Linked DNA regions of Homo sapiens: region 2 is linked to region 1. Evidence: fine-mapped expression QTL. Tissue or cell type: lymphoblastoid cells. Region 1 holds a variant in brackets; the other region holds the start of a gene. All regions are shown on one strand. Distances are from middle to middle.

Region 1 (8,446 bases):
ATTTCAGCTGGGTAGGATTTTTCTAATCATTTCCTTTGCTGGTGCATTGCTTGCTCTTTTACTCAGCATTTGTTCCATTCTCTTATCCTCATGGTCCCATCTCAAGTTGTTAGGGCTGAGCCAAGAGCCTCAAACTTTTGCTCGGAGACTAAGAGACCCTACAGGCAACCACACAGCCTACTCCTCCTGGGCCCTACCCAGACCATTCTCAGGAGGGCACTGCTGTTCCGACATCAGGGAGGATCAAGGGGAGCAAGTGACTCAGGCCAGGAACTAGGGTTTGGTGGCATCAGGCCACTGGGCTTGCTTGCTGAGCTTAGACATAGGAAGGAAAAAAACTCAGAGTGCGGCCCTAAAGCAAAGCTTAACCCCCACAGGAGCAAGAAGGCTTATCGTTCTCTTCTTACTGTGGCCCAAGGACGCTGTATCACACTCCTGCAAATAGCAGATGTTTCCAACAGGGGAAGGTGCACGCTGGGGAAGGGCGGGCCCGTCGTACCTTTGAGGGCCTCATTGATGTAAGTCCGAAGGTAGTAGATCCTTGCAGTGTCATTGAGGTCTGTTTCTTCCCGCTGGGACACTCCATTCTCTGTGACATAAATTGGAGGGTCATTGTATTCCTCCTTTAACCAGTTCAGGATCCTCCTGAAGCCAAAAGGCGTCATCTTCAGCCAGAAGGAGCCAGAGTCTGGCCACGAGCGATCTGCGATGGAAGCAACTCCTCTACAAGTTCAAAAACTAAAGATGAGGTCTTGTTTTGTAAATCTCAAGAGGCCCTTTACACGAAACACAAAACAGGACTTAGACCAGGAAAAGCCTTAGGTTTTGTCTAGCCTTAAGAATCATACTAAACCCAGAAGAATCAAATTGCCTCAAATTCTCCTCCTTTCGCTGGTTCTAGCTGCCTGCACTCTGTGCTTGTATAGCATTGGACAAGCCACTCAGCTCTCCGTCCTTCAATTTCTCTGCCTGTGCAGAGAATGGTCTTGCTCATGGAGCCCAGCCCTCCACTACTCTGAATAGATGGCTCCTTACACCAGCTATGAAAGGCTATGGGTCCCCAGCTCCAGGCTTCCAATGGACGCCAGTGCTGTGTCTTCAGAGAATGGGCTCCCCCAAGTCACCCATGTCTAGTCAATGCCACTTGCAGACCACGGGTGAGGCCACAGGCACGAATATTTGTAGGGGCCCTGCTTTGTGTGAAGACAGGCAGCAGACAGGCTGGCACCTCCTTCAAGTGTCCAAGAGCCTGGCCTCTCTCTTCAGTGATGGACGAGGAGGTGGACAGCTCCTGCCACAGGGGTGCCTGCTGGGGGAGGCCACAGAAGCCTGATCACCTGTAGTCACATATGTCAAATAAGAACCAAGAATTTAGACACTTCCTACACTCAGATCTTTCAGGGAAAAAAAAAATGTTGGTTTTATCAGCACCTGGATTTATCTGACTCAGCTGAATTGAATGTGGGCCATTTCATAAGCACTAGTGGAGGTCTTCCCAGGGACAGCCCCAGGGCTCATAAGAGGGAGGGAGAATCAGAAGGAGTAGAGGGGTGTTCTGGAGTCTCCTCAGCCCCCTTGGTGAGCCTGACTCTGGGGGTTTCAGGATACAGTGGGAGTGGAGGGGCTGGTTTTCAAAGAAAGAACCTGGACACAGTCAGAGCTACTGGTGTGGAAAGATGCTTGATGGAAAAGGAACAAAATGAGATTTTCTGAAAATGGCAGATAAGAGACAGGACTTAGGTACAGCTCCCACTTGGATGGACAGAACAGTGTGTGGAGACTCACATTGTTAACTGTTGCTCCAAGAACTACTGCTGGAACATACCAGAAAAACCAAAAGAATTCACAGACCTTTGAAAGAAGCAGAATGCTACTGCAAACTCCATGAGACAGCTGCAAAACTGTGAGTTCCCAAAGTGTGAGAAGGGGAAAGTCTGCCTCTGAACACACATCCTCTCTGGGGACCTGAACATCCAGATCATAGGAGAAGGATTTAACCTTACCTAGAGCGCAAGTGGATTTAGGGAGCCAAGTGAAATGTAAAAGTAGAAGAAGCAGTGGGAAGAGCCCTGTAGCCACTCCCTGTCCCCAGCTTGAGCCCAGGGAAGCCATTCCTGACTTTATCCTACAGGGGTCCTTGTAGAAGGAAGCCAGTGGAATTAGGGAGGGGCAGGATTAAGGAAGCTTCTAGCTCAACTTATTAATTTCAACTAGAAGCATGAATTTTCCTGAGCAGAATCTTGGGGGCAAACAAGAAGTGCAGATAAAAGCACAGAAGCCACAGCCAACAGTGTGGGCAGGTGGGGAGGGGCAAGGCCTGAAAGCCCTGTTTGCTTTCTCAGAGAGAAGGCTTGTGGCCTGGGGTGAGATCTCTGCCCTGCGCACTGTTGGCAGGGCACAGCAGGAGTGAGACTGGCCTTGCTGGCTGCATGGGAGCTAGGTGAGGCTTGTGACTGCCAGCTTTCCCAACTTCCCTAGCAACCTGTATGACACAGCAGAGGAAGCCATAATACCCCTGGGAACAGAACTCCACTGGCCTGAGAACCAGCCCCCTATTCCCCCACAGTGGCCACAGCAAGCCTCACCCGAGGAGAGTCTGAGCTCAGATATGCCTAATGCTGCCCCAACCTGATGGTCTTTCTCTACCTTTGCTGGTAGCTGAAGACAAAAGACATAAACTCTTGGGAGCTCTATGGCCCCGCCCATAACCTGAGAAACCCAAATACCCTGGCCAACGTAGGGCAACCTTGTAATCCCCCTTCTACTACCGCAGCTGGTGGCAGTGGAAGGGGAAAGCACCTCAAAAGTGCCACCTCCTCTCTTGAAAGTGCCACCTCCTGGCTGGAGACCAACCAACTCACGCCATTATAGCAACTCATAACAGAAGAACCCTGCTCCAAAGAAAGAGAAAACAACAACTAATTCCACTGCCTGCAACATCCTGGCTAACCAGAGGTCCTGAGTCTGTCCACATGACAACTTCACTGCTCGCATAACCAGCGTTTGAGAAAACCAGTGCACGAAAGAAAACTACAACCAAGGACCCTCACAGAATCCACTTAAGTCCCCTGCCACCTGCACTGGAGCAGGTGCTGGTATCCATGGCTGGGAGACCTGAAGACAGATCACATCACAGGACTCTTTGCAGACATTCCTCAGCACCAGTTCAGATCCCAGTAATTCTGCTGGGTGGATAGACCCAGAAGGGCAATGGCAATCACTGCAGTCTGGCTCTCAGGAAGCCCCATCCTTAGGGAAAGGGGGTGAGCACCACATCAAGGGATCACCCTGTGGGACAAAAGGATCTGAGGGGCAGCCCTTGAGTTCTAGATCTTTCCACTGAAACAGTCTACCTGAATGAGAAGGAACCAGAAATGTTAATTCTGGTAATATGACAAAACAAGGTTCTATAAGACCCCCAAAAGGTCGCACTAACTCTCCAGCTATGGATCCAAACCAAGAAGAAATCTCTGAATTGCCAGATAAAGAATTCAGAAGGTTGATTATTAAACTACTCAAGGAGGTACTAGAGAAAGGTGAAAATTAACTTAGAGAAATTTAAAAAACAATACAGGATATGGATGAAAAAGTCTCTAGATAAATAGATATCATAAAGAAAAAGACAATCGGCTGGGCGCAGTGGCTCACACCTGTAATCCCAGCACTTTGGGAGGCCAAGGCAAGGGGATCATCTGAGGTCAGGAGATAGAGACCAGCCTGACCAACATGGAGAAACCCTGTCTCTACTAAAAACACAAAATTAGCCGAGACCATTCTGGCCAACATGATGAAACCCCGTCTCTGCTAAAATACAAAAAAAAAAAAAAAAAAATTAGCCAGGCGTGGAGGTACGCGCCTGTAATCCCAGCTACTTGGAGGCTGAGGCAGGGGAATCACTGGAACCCGGGTGGTGGAGGTTGCAGTGAGCCAAGATTGTGCCACTGCACTCCAGCCTGGTGACAGAGCGAGACTCTGTCTCAAAAAAAATAAATAAAATAAAAACTGTTACTTAAAAGGTGAACCAAAATCTTTTACTATCTCTACTTCATAAAAGCATTGTTTAAAAAGAGAAAATAAAATTTTACTCTTGTATTATTGTAATATTTATTAATATTAAAGCGAATTTTGATAAAACCTAAACAATTTTTTTCTTGAAAATCCTTTTTAACAACCAAGCATTTTTAGAGTTAAGCAGCCTGTGAAAAAGAACGCAAAATAAATAAATTTTAAAAATGAAATAAAAAAACAAAAAGCCAAGCACATGTGCCCTAATGGGAGGTGCCCTGGAGACCCCGGCCTTCTCTCCCTCTTGCTTGCTGGAGATTTCCTTGGGATCTGTGGGGTGGCGAGCATCTTGCAAACCCCGGCACATTCGGCGTTGGAGGCCCTGTTTTGAGGCTGGGCAGGCCTCAGAGAGCACAGCCAAGGGCACCTTTCTGCCTTTTCCAGAGATGGCTCCGGGCTCCCTGTTGGTGGACTTACCTGTCTGCATCAAAAGAAGAGATGGCAGTGGCATAGTTGAGGTTGTAGGCGAGGACAGTGGTGTAGTGATTGAACCCAAAAAAGTCATAGGTGCCGTTGATCCTCCTCTTCTCACTCTCTGTAAATTCTGGCAGCCTGGGTGGAAGAAGCCATTGAGGGC[A/G]GGGCTTCAGGGAGAGCCATGCTTTGAGAAGAGAACGTCATAGGGCTGGGGCGGGGGAGCTCTCCGAACCCCAGGCACTTGGCAGTGAGTAGGGGAAACTGGCAGGGAAGGAGAAGAGGTCCTTCAGGCGGTGCAGGAAGCACTGCGGCTCCTCCAGCCAGACCATAAACCTGGCTTCCCTAGGTCTCTACAAGAGCCTCTGAAACCTGAAGGACCACACACACACGCACCCACGCGCGCGCGCGCACACACACACACACACACACACATGCATAAACAGTTTTTAATTTCCTTCAAACAACATATGCAAATTCTGATATTTAGCATCTATGACAGATTTCAAAATCAAGAGCATGCCTGAGGTACATATCTGAGACTCTTCCCCTATGTTTGTAAAGTTAGATCTTGTATAATTTTTTTTTTTTGTGGCTGAGTCTGGCTCTGTCACCTAGGCTGGAGTGCAGTGGCGCGATCTCAGCTCACTGCAACCTCCGCCTCCTGGGTTCAAGTGATTCTCCTGCCTCAGCCTCCCAAGTAGCTGGGACTACAAGCGCCTGCCACAACTCCTGGCTGATTTTTTATATTTTTGGTAGAGATGGGGTTTCACCATGTTGGCCAGGCTGGTCTTGAACTCCTGACCTCAAGTGATCCGCCCACCTCAGCCTCCTAAAGTGTTGGGATTACAGGCATGAGCCACCACACCCGGCCCTGTATCTTGTGTAATTTGTATTTCCGTTTTCTGCCCTTTCCAAGTTTCTCTGCTCCTCTTGGGGTTTGTTTAGGCATGCCTCTTTTCTCCAACTCTAATAATAATAATAATAATAATAATAATAATAATAGCTTCAAGATCTTCAAAGTAGCAGGGGAAATAATTTGCAAATTGAGTATTTGAGTTTGAATTTCTCAGTTCTCACGATTTCACTGAACTTTGTTTTCTTTCTTCCTTTTTTTTTTCCCAGACAGGGTCTCGCCCTGTCCTCCTGAGGACACTGCACGCCCCCTGAGGCTGGAGTGCAGTGGTGCAATCATAGCTCACTGCAACCTCAGTCTCCTGGGCTCAAGCAATCCTCTCACCTCAGCCTCCCAAGTAGTTGGGAATATAGGTGTGCGTCACCATGCCTAGATAATTTTTAAATTTTTTGTAAAGACAAAGTCTCACTATATTGCCCAGGCTGGTCTTGAACTCCTGGTCTCAAGCAATCCTCCTGCCTCAGCCTCCCAAAGTGCTGAGATTACTTGTGAGCCTGGGAACTTTGGCTTCTTAACCTGTAGATGGAGCATTTTCCAGGCACTCTGAGTGAAAAGCCTCTCCTGTAGAACCTGACTAATACACTTGTGTGCAGCATGTACAGGTGATCCTGAATGCATGCGCATGCCCACAGGGAGACCTGGGGCTTCTGGTTTAGGTGTGGCCCAGAGATGCCCTGCTGAGGCCTCTGACACTTTCATCTTGACCTTTCTGCTACCATTAACCTGAGGGATCAAGAACCTTCCTTCCCTGGGGTTTCTGAGATGATGGGAGAAAACCAAAGCACAGCCTCCTCCTGTCCCTGACGCTTCTGCTCAGAAGCCAGCAATGGCCTGTGGCACCAAAGCCAAGGCCCTGTGCTTGGCTTCCAGGCCCTCCACCATGTGGCCTCAGCCCCTTCACTGCTGCTGGGCTGGTCTCCCCACTCTCAGCTCTGGCACCCCCACTCATTCTTACCTCTAGGCCTGTCTTCACAACTCTGCCCCGTGGAAAGAATGACCTGCAATCCCCCACATTCTATCCCCTGTCAAGGCCCAGCTCAGCTGATGTCCTGCCTTGTCCATGAAATCTCCTGGGTCTACCCAGCCTACCCTGATCTCATCTTCTGAGTTTTCTTTGTACTGAAGAGCCTGGGGAATGGGATGGAGAACTGTCTTTCCAGCTGATCTGTCAGCAGCTTGAGGAGCCGAATGGAATCCTCTCCTTCCATGGACCCCTCCCCCTGGCCCTGGCTCGGGCAAATGGTAGGTGCTCGGCAAAGTTGTGCAGATGGGCCGGGCGCTCATCGGTTTTGCTGGAGATCACAGTTCGCAGATCAGACCTTTAGGCACAGCCTGCTCTGGGGAACTTACCCTAACTAGGCCAGGGTGTGCATTGTGAGGTGGGAGCTGGATTTTTTTTTTTTTTTTTTTTTTGAGACAAAGAGTCTTGCTCCATCGTCCAGGCTGGAGTGCAGTGGCATGATCTCGGCTCACTGCAACCTCTGCCTCCCGAGCTCAAGCAATTCTCTGGCCTCAGCCTCCCAAGTAGCTGGGATTACAGGCCCCCGCCACCGCACCCAGCTAATTTTTGTATTTTTAGTAGAGACAGGGTTTCGCCATGTTGGCCAGCCTGGTCTTGAACTCATGACTTCAAGTGATCCGCCCACCTTGGCCTCCCAAAGTGCTGGGATTACAGGTGTGAGCCACCGCACCCGGCCTGGGAGCTGGATTTTTAATCCTCAGCTGGACTATATGGGGGCGTCTAGGGGCAGGACTCAAAGACTATGTTGGGAATTCACACTTGATTCCCGCCAGCCTTGGAGCGGTGGGCATGTTCCCGTGGGCAGTGACTGCCGCTTCCTGCGCTTCCTCACACCACACCTCTCACCCCACCTGCATGATTCTCAAGCCCCCAGCATGCGCCCTGGGGGCCGACAGCTTGGCTGCAAATCTCAGCTCTATCTCTTAATAGCTGGGTGATCTTGCCCTAATCTTTGCGCCTCACTTTACTCGTATTTAAATAGAAATAAAGATACCAACAGAAGATGGGTAAACGTTGGCTGCTAATGTTGCTACTCCTTCCTTGACAAGAAGGGGCGGGCGGGTAAGGAAGGACGCTTTGGTGCAGACCATCGCCACCTGCTGGCCAAGTGATGCAAAGCACACGCCTGACTGTCAGCCACTGCCACCCACATTCACACGTGCGGTGATGAAATAGGATAGGATGAGCTGGGATTTGTCTGTGGAGTGGCATAGTGGGGTTGCTCAGAGGTGGATAGCCTTGGAACAGATTTCCTGGCTGTTCCACAATATAATAACCATAATAGCAAACCCCTCTGTCAAGCATATAGCAGTGCCAGGTGCTGGGCTAAGCTTTACATATATGATCACATGTAACTTCCCAGCAAGCAAAGAAGCTCAGTCATGGTAACTTGCCCGAGACATGCCTCTGTGACCCCGACGCCCATGCCCTCACCACTGCGGGCACCAGGCCCTTACCGAGACTTGTTGAGGCCTGCAGCCAAGCTCCTGTCACGGATCCGCGTCTTCATCACCTCATTGTAATCTCCATTCTTGAAAATAGGATGTGCAAACCAGCCTCCCATGAACTGCGGGTAGGGTGGGGGAGACAGCCCAGGCGTTACAGGTGGGCACAGCAAGAGACAGCATCGTCCCCGCTCAGAAGTGCCTGGCCTCACAACCTCCCTCCTTTTCCTGGACCCCCAGGTTAAGCTCTCTTCCCTGTGGCTCCTGCCTGTTGCAGCTTCAGTGTCCACAGGTCTCCCAGCTGGGTCTGTGCTTGCTCAGTTGCTGTTGCACTGAGGACAGGGCCACCTCTTCATAGTTGTAGCTTGAGGTGACAGTAACTGACCTGGGCACTGGCCCTGGTGCTCAACAAATGCTTCCTGGCTGCCCTTGGATGGGTCCTGCAGAGGAGAAGGGAGAACCCACAAGCCTCCAGGCTCCCGGTTCTCTTTCTCACCACTGAGCGGCTGCACTTCCTCATCAAAGTGCCCAAGGAGCAAACAGAACTTTCTGGGGAGGGCTGAAATGCAAGGCTTTCCTGACTTTCCG
Region 2 (8,446 bases), 43 kb after region 1:
CGCCTGAAACCAACCAGAGACACGAACAGCAGGTGAGCGAGGGCAGGAGGCTCTGACTGTGGAAACCACTGGGGGATTCATTTCCTATGGACCTGAAGAAATCATCCAAATGACTTTACTCTAGCTGAAAGATTTTAGAAGACAAGGTGGCTTAAAAAAATAATGTTCCTTTAGAGAGTGTTTTGTGAAAATCAGGACTATGAAATGCAGAGCAGTTGGAGAGTTGGCAAGGAGAGAACTCCTTCCTAAACTTCTTTTTTTTTTTTTTTTTTTTTTTGAGACGGAGTCTCGCTCCGTCGCCCAGGCTGGAGTGCAGTCGTGCCATCTCGGCTCACTGAAAGCTCCGCCTCCCGCGTTCACGCCATTCTCCTGCCTCAGCCTCCCGAGTAGCTGGGACTACAGGGGCCCGCCACCACGCCCGGCTAATTTTTTGCATTTTTGGTAGAGACGGAGTTGCACCGGGTTAGCCAGGATGGTCTCGATCTCCTGACCTCATGATCTGCCCGCCTTGGCCTCCCAAAGTGTTGGGATTACAGGCGTGAGCCACCGCGCCCGGCCATCTTAACTATTTTTAAGTGCACAGTTCAGTATTATTAAGTATATTCACATTGTTGTGCAACCAATCTCCAGAACTTTTTCATTTTTCTGAACAGAAATTCTACTCCCATTAAAGAGCTCTCCATTTCTCCCCTACCCCAGCCCCTGGCCTCTGCCATTCTCCTTCCTCTCTCCATGAATTCGACTGCTCTAGTTTCCTCCTATACATGGAATCATACAGCGTTTGTCTTTTTGTGTCTGGCTTATTTCACATAGCATAATGTCCTCAAGGTTCATCCATGTTGTAGCATGTGATGATTTCTTCCCTTTTTAATAAATGTGGAGTAATATTCCATTTTATGTCTATGCCACGTCTCGTTTATCCATTCATCCATCAGTGGATATCTGGGTTGCTTCCACCTTTTGGCTATTGTGAATAAGGCAGCTATGATGTCCTAGTTTATTTTTCATTTATTTTTGAGACAGAGTCTCGCTCTGTCGCCCAGGCTGGAGTGCAATGGCGCAGTCTCGGCTCACTGCAACCTCCGCCTCCCAGGTTCAAGCGATTCTCCTGCCTCAGCCTCCTGAGTAGCTGGGACTACAGACACGTGCTACCACGCCTCGCTAATTTTTTGTATTTTTAGTAGAGATGGGGTTTCACCGTGTTAGCCAGGATGGTCTCGATCTTCTGACCTTGTGACCCGCCTGCCTCAGCCTCCCAAAGTGCTGGGATTACAAGCGTGAACCACCACGCCTGGCCTTATTTTATTTTTTTGTTTAAGGCCGGGCGTGGTGGCTCACGCCTGTAATCCCAGCATTTTGGGAGTCCGAGGCGGGCGGATCACCTGAGATCAGAAGTTTGAGTCCAGCCTGGCCAACACGGTGAAACCCCATCTCTACTAAAAATACAAAAATTAGCCAGATGTGGTGGTGCGTGCCTGTAATCCCAGCTACTGGGAAGGCTGAGGCAGGAGAATTGCTTGAACTCGGGAGGCAGAGGTTGCAGTGAGCCGAGATCACACCACTGCACTCCAGCCTGGACAAAAGAGTGAGACTCCATCTCAAAAAAAAAAAAAAAAAAAAAAAGAAGAAGAAAAAAATGTTTAACGTCTCTATAATCAAATACATGCAAATTAACAAGACATGAAAATAAGCTGTTTTCAGCTGTCAAATTAGTAATAAAATATAGCATTTGAAACTGACAGAATGGGGTCAGAGAGTAATTTTATAACTGTTCGTATAAATGATTACAACTTTTCTGGAAAATAATTTAGTACCATGCTTTAAAATCTTAAAGAATGCAGATCTTTTCACCTAGTAGTTTCAATTCTAAGATTCTGTCAGAAAGAATTTATCAGAAGGTGGGAAATAGTTTATAGATAGGAATGTCATTGCAACATAACTTGTAACTAGTGAAAATTAGAATAAACATACAAAAATAAGGAAAATACCTTAAACTTTATGCTCCATTTATACAATGGGAACCTAAAAGACCATTGAAAGTTATGCTTTCAAGTTTTTCTTTTGTTTTAAGCAATACTATTCCAGCACTGGAGTAAATTATTATATTATTTTAGAGATAGTGGCTCTCTATGTTGCCCAGGCTGGTCTCCAACTCCTGGCCTCAAGCAATCCCCCTGCCTTGGCCTCCTAACGTGCTGGGATTATAGGCATGAGCCACCATGCCTGGCTCAAGTTTTTAATAAAATGAGAATATAGTCATAAACTATGTTAAAATGAAAAAGTAGAACATAGAAGTATATATATATATATATATATATATATATATATATATATATATATATATCAGGTACTATATATACAAATATGTATGTATATGGTATATAATAAAAACAAGAAAGCATATATAATCCAAAATTGATTCTCAAAATTGGTGTACCTAACATACACTTAGGGAATTGATTATAATCACAAATGTCCTGGTTCAGCCTAGGCCTACAGATCAGAACTTCAAGTCCCCTAGGAGGCAGGAATGTGAACAGTTACAGTTGTGCTCTCCTCATCCTGTGATATATAATTGTTTCATCTTGTATTTGTCTGTCTCCCAAGCTGCAATGTAAGCTCCAACTAAGACATGTAAGTATAGGGGAGCCGAGGGGGAAGGACAGGAAACCACGAAACTTTGCCTCCAAGTCAGGGTAGCAGGACATAGACGGAAAGGAAGACAGAAAGACAATCAGTGCTTGCACAACTCAAGACTGGGCAAGGGGTATTTCAAAAATACATGTGTGTATATATATATATATATATATATATATATATATATATATGTATACATATTTTTTTTTTTTGAGATTGTGTCTTGCTCTGTCGCACAGGCTGTAGTACAGTGGCATGATTTCGGCTCACTGCAACATCTGCCTCCTGGGTTCAAGCAATTCTCCTGCCTAAGCCTCCCGAGTAGCTGGGATCACAGGCGCCTGCTACCATCCCTGGCTAATTTTGGTATTTTTAGTAGAGACGGGGTTTTGCCATATTGGCCAGGCTGGTCTCGAACTCCTGACTTCAAGTGATCCGCCCACCTCGGCCTCCCAAAGTGCTAGGATTACAGGCGTGAGCCTCAAAGATATTTTTCAAAGGAAATGCTGAGTGTTTTGCCATGTTAGCTACCCCTTCCTATCGCCAGTGGGAAATCAATTTACAATATTAATTTCTCCCTATGCACAGACATAAGAGGACTGCTGAAGGTGAGTTGGGAGAAATGTCGAATCTGCTCTAAGGAGGATGGGGAAGGTGTGTGATGAAGGTTGCCGAGGGGTCACCATCAGGTCAATGTGTACTCACCCTGAAAAGCATAGCTTTCGTGGTAAATCTCATAGGCTTTTCTGTGGGCATCACTGAGGGTCTGGAGTTGTGACGCTCTTGATTCCTGGTGGGGAAGCTCCTTGATCACTTCCTCCAAGTCACTGAAGGTGAACCAGATCCCAACTAGGTCCCCGAAGGAGTGGAAGGCGAATGTGGCATAGTCGGCGAAGAGGTCAGCAAAGGCTTCGGTTCTCCGGAGGGTGCTGGCAGGGAGGGTCTGGTGGTGCAGGATGACCATGGGCTGAAGCCGTGCAGTCTTGAGGGCCTTGAGGAGTCGCCGGTAGCACTGCACTGTTTTCTCGTCTGGATTCTGGGTGCTTCCTGCTGGGAGGAGCTGTGCCCATGACAGAAATACCTTATAATGGGTGATCTGACTGGCATGGAGACTGCTGAAGTATTCTGGCAGGAAAGTGGGCAGTGGCTGGTGACAAACATACATGTCTTTGTCCCCTGCTACAAAGTTAGAACTCTGGTCTCCCAGGAGACCACTCAGGTTGTGCAGCAAGTCATTGGTTAGAGGACCAGCGGTGGAAATGAAATTTCTATCAGACTCCCAGTCTGACCCCCAGCATGAAAAACTTAGCAGGGCAATAAAGACTACATGCCAAGACAGCTCCATTTTCTAGGAACTGTTAGGAGGTATGTGGAACCCTTACTTTATAACTGCAACTGAGGTTGTAAAATACTAAGTGATAATTAAGACTTAATATTTAACTGGGTTATCTATGATCACAAAATCAGTACACGGTTCACTAATGCAATATTTAAAAATGTAAAGATCAGGGCCGGGCGTGGTGGCTCACACCTGTAATTCCAGCACTTTGGGAGGCCGAGGTGGGCGGATCACGAGGTCAGGAGATCGAGACCGTCCTAGCTAACATGGTGAAACCCCATCTCTACTAAAAATACAAAAAATTAGCCAGGCATCGTGGCATGCGCCTGTAGTCCCGGCTACTCAGGAGGCTGAGGCAGGAGAATCACTTGAACCCAGGAGGCGGAGGTTGCAGGAGCCAAGATCATGCCACTGCACTCCAGCCTGGGCAACAGAATGAGACTCCATCTTAAAAAAAAAAAAAAAAAAAAAAGGTAAAGACCAACACAAAAACCTCAGACTTCCTATACAAGTTAAGCAGAGGAACCCGGAAAATGTCTGAAGAAAACGATTACCAATTTTTTTTGTTTTTTTTGTTTTTTGGTGACCGGGTCTCACTCTGTTGCCCAGGTGGGAGTGCAGTGGTGCGATCACAGCTTCCTGCAGCCTTGACTTCCTGGGCTCAAGTGATCCTCCCATCTCAGCATCCTGGGTAGGTGGGACCATAGGTGTGCGCCACCACGACTGGCTAATTTTTTGTATTTTTAGTAGAGATGGAGTTTTGCCATGTCACCCAGGCTGGTCTTGAACTCCTGGGCTCAAGCAATCCTCTTGCCTCAGCCTCCTAAAGTGTTGGGATTACAGGTGTGAGCCAGCGCACCCAGCCACACATTATTTTAAAATTTGTTTACATAATACAAAAATAAGTATTTTGCCCCAAATTTTCTCTTTAAAAATATGCTGAACATATTTTGTAAGAGATTCAAACAATATGGAAACATCTATGAAAAACTTGCAAATTCCTTCACCCTCCCCCCTCCTCTTCCTATAATAAGTATCTTCAGCAATATGTATCTTTCCAGTTTTCTTTCTCTGCATATCTTAATGGTTATACAGGAGTCAGAATGCCTGGGTTTAAATCTCACCTGACAAAAATTACTTAACTTTGTGCCTCTATTTTGTCACCTGTAGAATGTGGATAATTCATCATAGGCTGTGGGGATTAAATGGGTCTTTCTTGTAGCATGTATACAACAGTACAGCTCAGGGATCATTATTATTACGTAAATACAAATGGAAACGTGTATAACATTTAAAATATAGAACAATTTAACATATATGGAATTATGCCATATGTATTTTCAGCCTTTTCTTCACTTAATAGCTCTTAGAGTTCTGCCTGTATCAGAACATATAGACCCACCTCTAACAGATGCATAGCTTTCCACAGCAAGAATGTACCATAAATTAACATCTTGCATATTAAACACCGGTTGGTTTTACATTTTTGTGTTGCAAACAATGCTGCAAATGAATATCCTTATATACAGGCTGGGCATGGTCAATCACGCCTGTTTTGCCAGTACTTTTGGAGGCTCAGACTGTAGGACTGCTCAAGCCCAGGAGCTTGAGGCCAGTCTGGGCAACACAGGGAGATCATCTCAAAAAAAAAAATGGTTTTTGATTGATTGAAATGCAAATTGTCTTCCAAGTTAAATCCTACATAGAGTTAGATGTGTGCCTGTATCCGTCTGCCTTGCTAATGCCTATTATAAAACTTTTACATTTTTGATACTTTGACGTAAATATTATGTGCTTTTCTTTTTCTGATTATTTAAGAGGTGAAGCTCTTCTTGTTAATTGGGCATTTTTCTTCTGAGTTTTATCTTATTACTGATATAAAAATTCTTAATGGGAGTTTGGATATCACATATTAAAACGTGATAGAAAAATTTTCCCATCTTTTAATTTGGTTTATAGTGTCTGTTTTTTTTTAATAGACTCCCATGACTTTCCATAGACTGTAGAGGGTGAAGCCTGGGAATCTTTTTTTGTTGTTGTTGTTGCCGCCCAAGCTGGAGGGCAGTGGCATGATCTCAGCTCACTGCAACTTCCACCTCTTGGGTTCAAGCAATTCTCCTGCCTCAACCTCCTGAGTAGCTGGGATTACAGGTGCCCACCACCATGCCTGGCTAATTTTTGTACTTTTAGTAGAGACAGGTTTTCTCCACGTTGGCCAGGCTTGTCTCGAACTCCTGACCTCAGGTGATCTACTCACCTTGGCCTCCCAAAGTGCTGGGATTACAGGCGTGAGCCACCGTGCCTAGCCTTTTTTTTTCTTAAGTGAAAGCAAGGCTATTAGGAAAGTAAAGGAATAAAAAATGGTTACTACGTCAGCAGAGCAGCCTAGTCTTTAAAGATACATTACCTGATACCAGTCTTCTTATAAAAATCCCATGACAAATCTACTTGAGTATTCACTCTTGTTTTTAATGTTTGCCATTTATTTTTAAAATACTTAATTGTACATACTTGTGGAGTACATTTTGACAAGGTTTCATACAAGTTGATTCCAGGGAAAGAGATAATTATTGGGAGAAACATATTTAAATCATTGTTTTAACCTATATTAATCTGTCTTGCTTTCTACTAATAGATTTCTGGCTGCTCAAATTCACATTGCACTGGAAAGCTCAGACATCAAGGCAAGTTGAGTACTCATGGGTATTAGACTGTCCCACGTGGGCCTTAGCCTCAGACAGTTATTTTGCTTTTGTGACCTTTAACATACTTTGTGATTTAATGAATGCCATCTGTTGTTAAAAGCTGCAACACAGGAACTGCTCCACCTCATGAACATACTGATCATAGCTAAGTCTCAGGAACTGTTAGTATCATAAACGGTAATAACTTTTCCTGGAAGACCATAAAATTTGGGGATTGCTTGTAATATAGCAAATGACCTATTTCCCCTAAAAAAGCAATTTGAAAACAATCCTGAGAAATTACCCTTAGGACACAGAAGTAAAATAAATTACTAAAGAGTAATTTTAAAAAAGTATAATAAACTTTTATAAACTTAAAAAAAAAAAAAAACAACTGGAATTAACCTTGGAAAGTCATCTCTAAGGCCTCTAGCTTTCATATGAGTTCTCTAATGACTCCTTCTCATAGAAACCTCATCCATAATACCACAGTTCTACCTCTTCACTCCAGGTTAAGCAAAAAGGGAAAGTCTCACATTCAGAAGTAGATGGAAGTAATAATCAGGGTACAGTAGAAAGAAATCCAATAGACAACTTCAGAACAAGTTATTTTATTTTGATGAATAAAAGCAGTAGCTGGCAATTGAAAAAAAGTTATTTGCTCAATAGGACAGCACATACCTTAAAAGTAATGGGCCTTTTCTTACACATGAAAACAAAGGTATTGGTTATAGAGACTACACATTATTTGGTTCCAACTTCACTGGGACAGGAAACACACCAAAGGAAGTGCTGAAGCCTGTGTTGGTATGAAACCTGTGATGAATGTGACACATAGGACCATCAACTCAATTCTTGTTTCTGAAAACAAATCCTGGAAGCATCACTTCCAGAAACACTTCTGTCCCTAGCAGAGCTCCAGCCAGGCTCCAGGCCACGAGGTGCTGTGCCACAGTTCCTCAGCTCTGGTCAGTTACTTTCACTATCTCAATCTTCGAGCAAGTAGTTAGGGTTAACTACCAAGTAGGGATCTTCTTCATAGCTCTCACTTCCCTCTGTGGAGCCTTTCAATCCAGCCTGGGTGAGCTCAATTAGAACATGATCCTGTGAAACACAAATATTTGTCCTCAGGTTTCAAGCAGTATTATACCAATGTCCAGATATACAAGACTTGACCCTTCTTCCGAGTGTTTGCTATCAACATTTTCTTTCATTTCCCAACTAGAAACTCCTAGGAAAAGGACCACACTTTAAAAATCACTATCAGTGCTCTGCTAAACCCTGTTCCTAGTAGGATGCTGACCTTTTCATACCATAAACCCCTTGTGGAAAATTAAGAAATACTTAAATATATTACATCAAATGCTTGTAAATACAACTTCAAAAAAGGAAGTAATGCTTGAATTTTAAGGTTAAACAACTCTGCAAAATCTTCTAATTAATTGGAAGTCTGTTTCATACTTAATATCATTCAGCAATTTTTAATTATGACCACTGAACTTTTTCATATACCACCATTTCATAGAGTTAGGAGAAGAATCTATGAAAATTCATCTGAAAAATTTTTCACTCTGAGCTAATAAAAAAAAAGGTAGAACATGCCATCTGGCTTAAAATCTTGATGACAGATTTTAAGCCCACGATATAATTACAGGTTAGTCAAAACTGTCCACAAATGAGAAGAGCTCCTAGCCAAGCCCATAGAAAGGAACTCAGGAAACTGTGATTTGATCCTAAGAAGTCTGGCAAGGCTCCACAGTATAAACACTGAAGCCACTAAGGGGGA

What was found. PIP is the estimated chance that this variant, and not a neighbour inherited with it, causes the effect.
Region 2: LCT starts here. The variant in region 1 is fine-mapped to the expression of LCT in lymphoblastoid cells (GTEx, PIP 0.94).

What each region holds. Positions count from the first base shown.
Region 1 is chr2:135,790,159-135,798,604 of GRCh38, forward strand. It overlaps LCT (lactase), which reads right to left. Exons shown (of 17, transcript NM_002299.4): 13 at 7,871-7,980; 14 at 4,483-4,617; 15 at 500-723. Among named protein-coding and RNA genes, the nearest start is that of LCT-AS1, 26 kb to the right of the region's middle. RefSeq lists enhancers at 7,251-7,772, 7,773-8,296. The variant A/G (reference allele first, on the strand shown) is at 4,643.
Region 2 is chr2:135,833,188-135,841,633 of GRCh38, forward strand. It overlaps LCT (lactase), which reads right to left and starts at 3,997. Exons shown (of 17, transcript NM_002299.4): 1 at 3,343-3,997; 2 at 1-3. The coding sequence starts at 3,982. It overlaps MCM6 (minichromosome maintenance complex component 6), which reads right to left. Exons shown (of 17, transcript NM_005915.6): 17 at 6,439-7,764. The coding sequence ends at 7,648.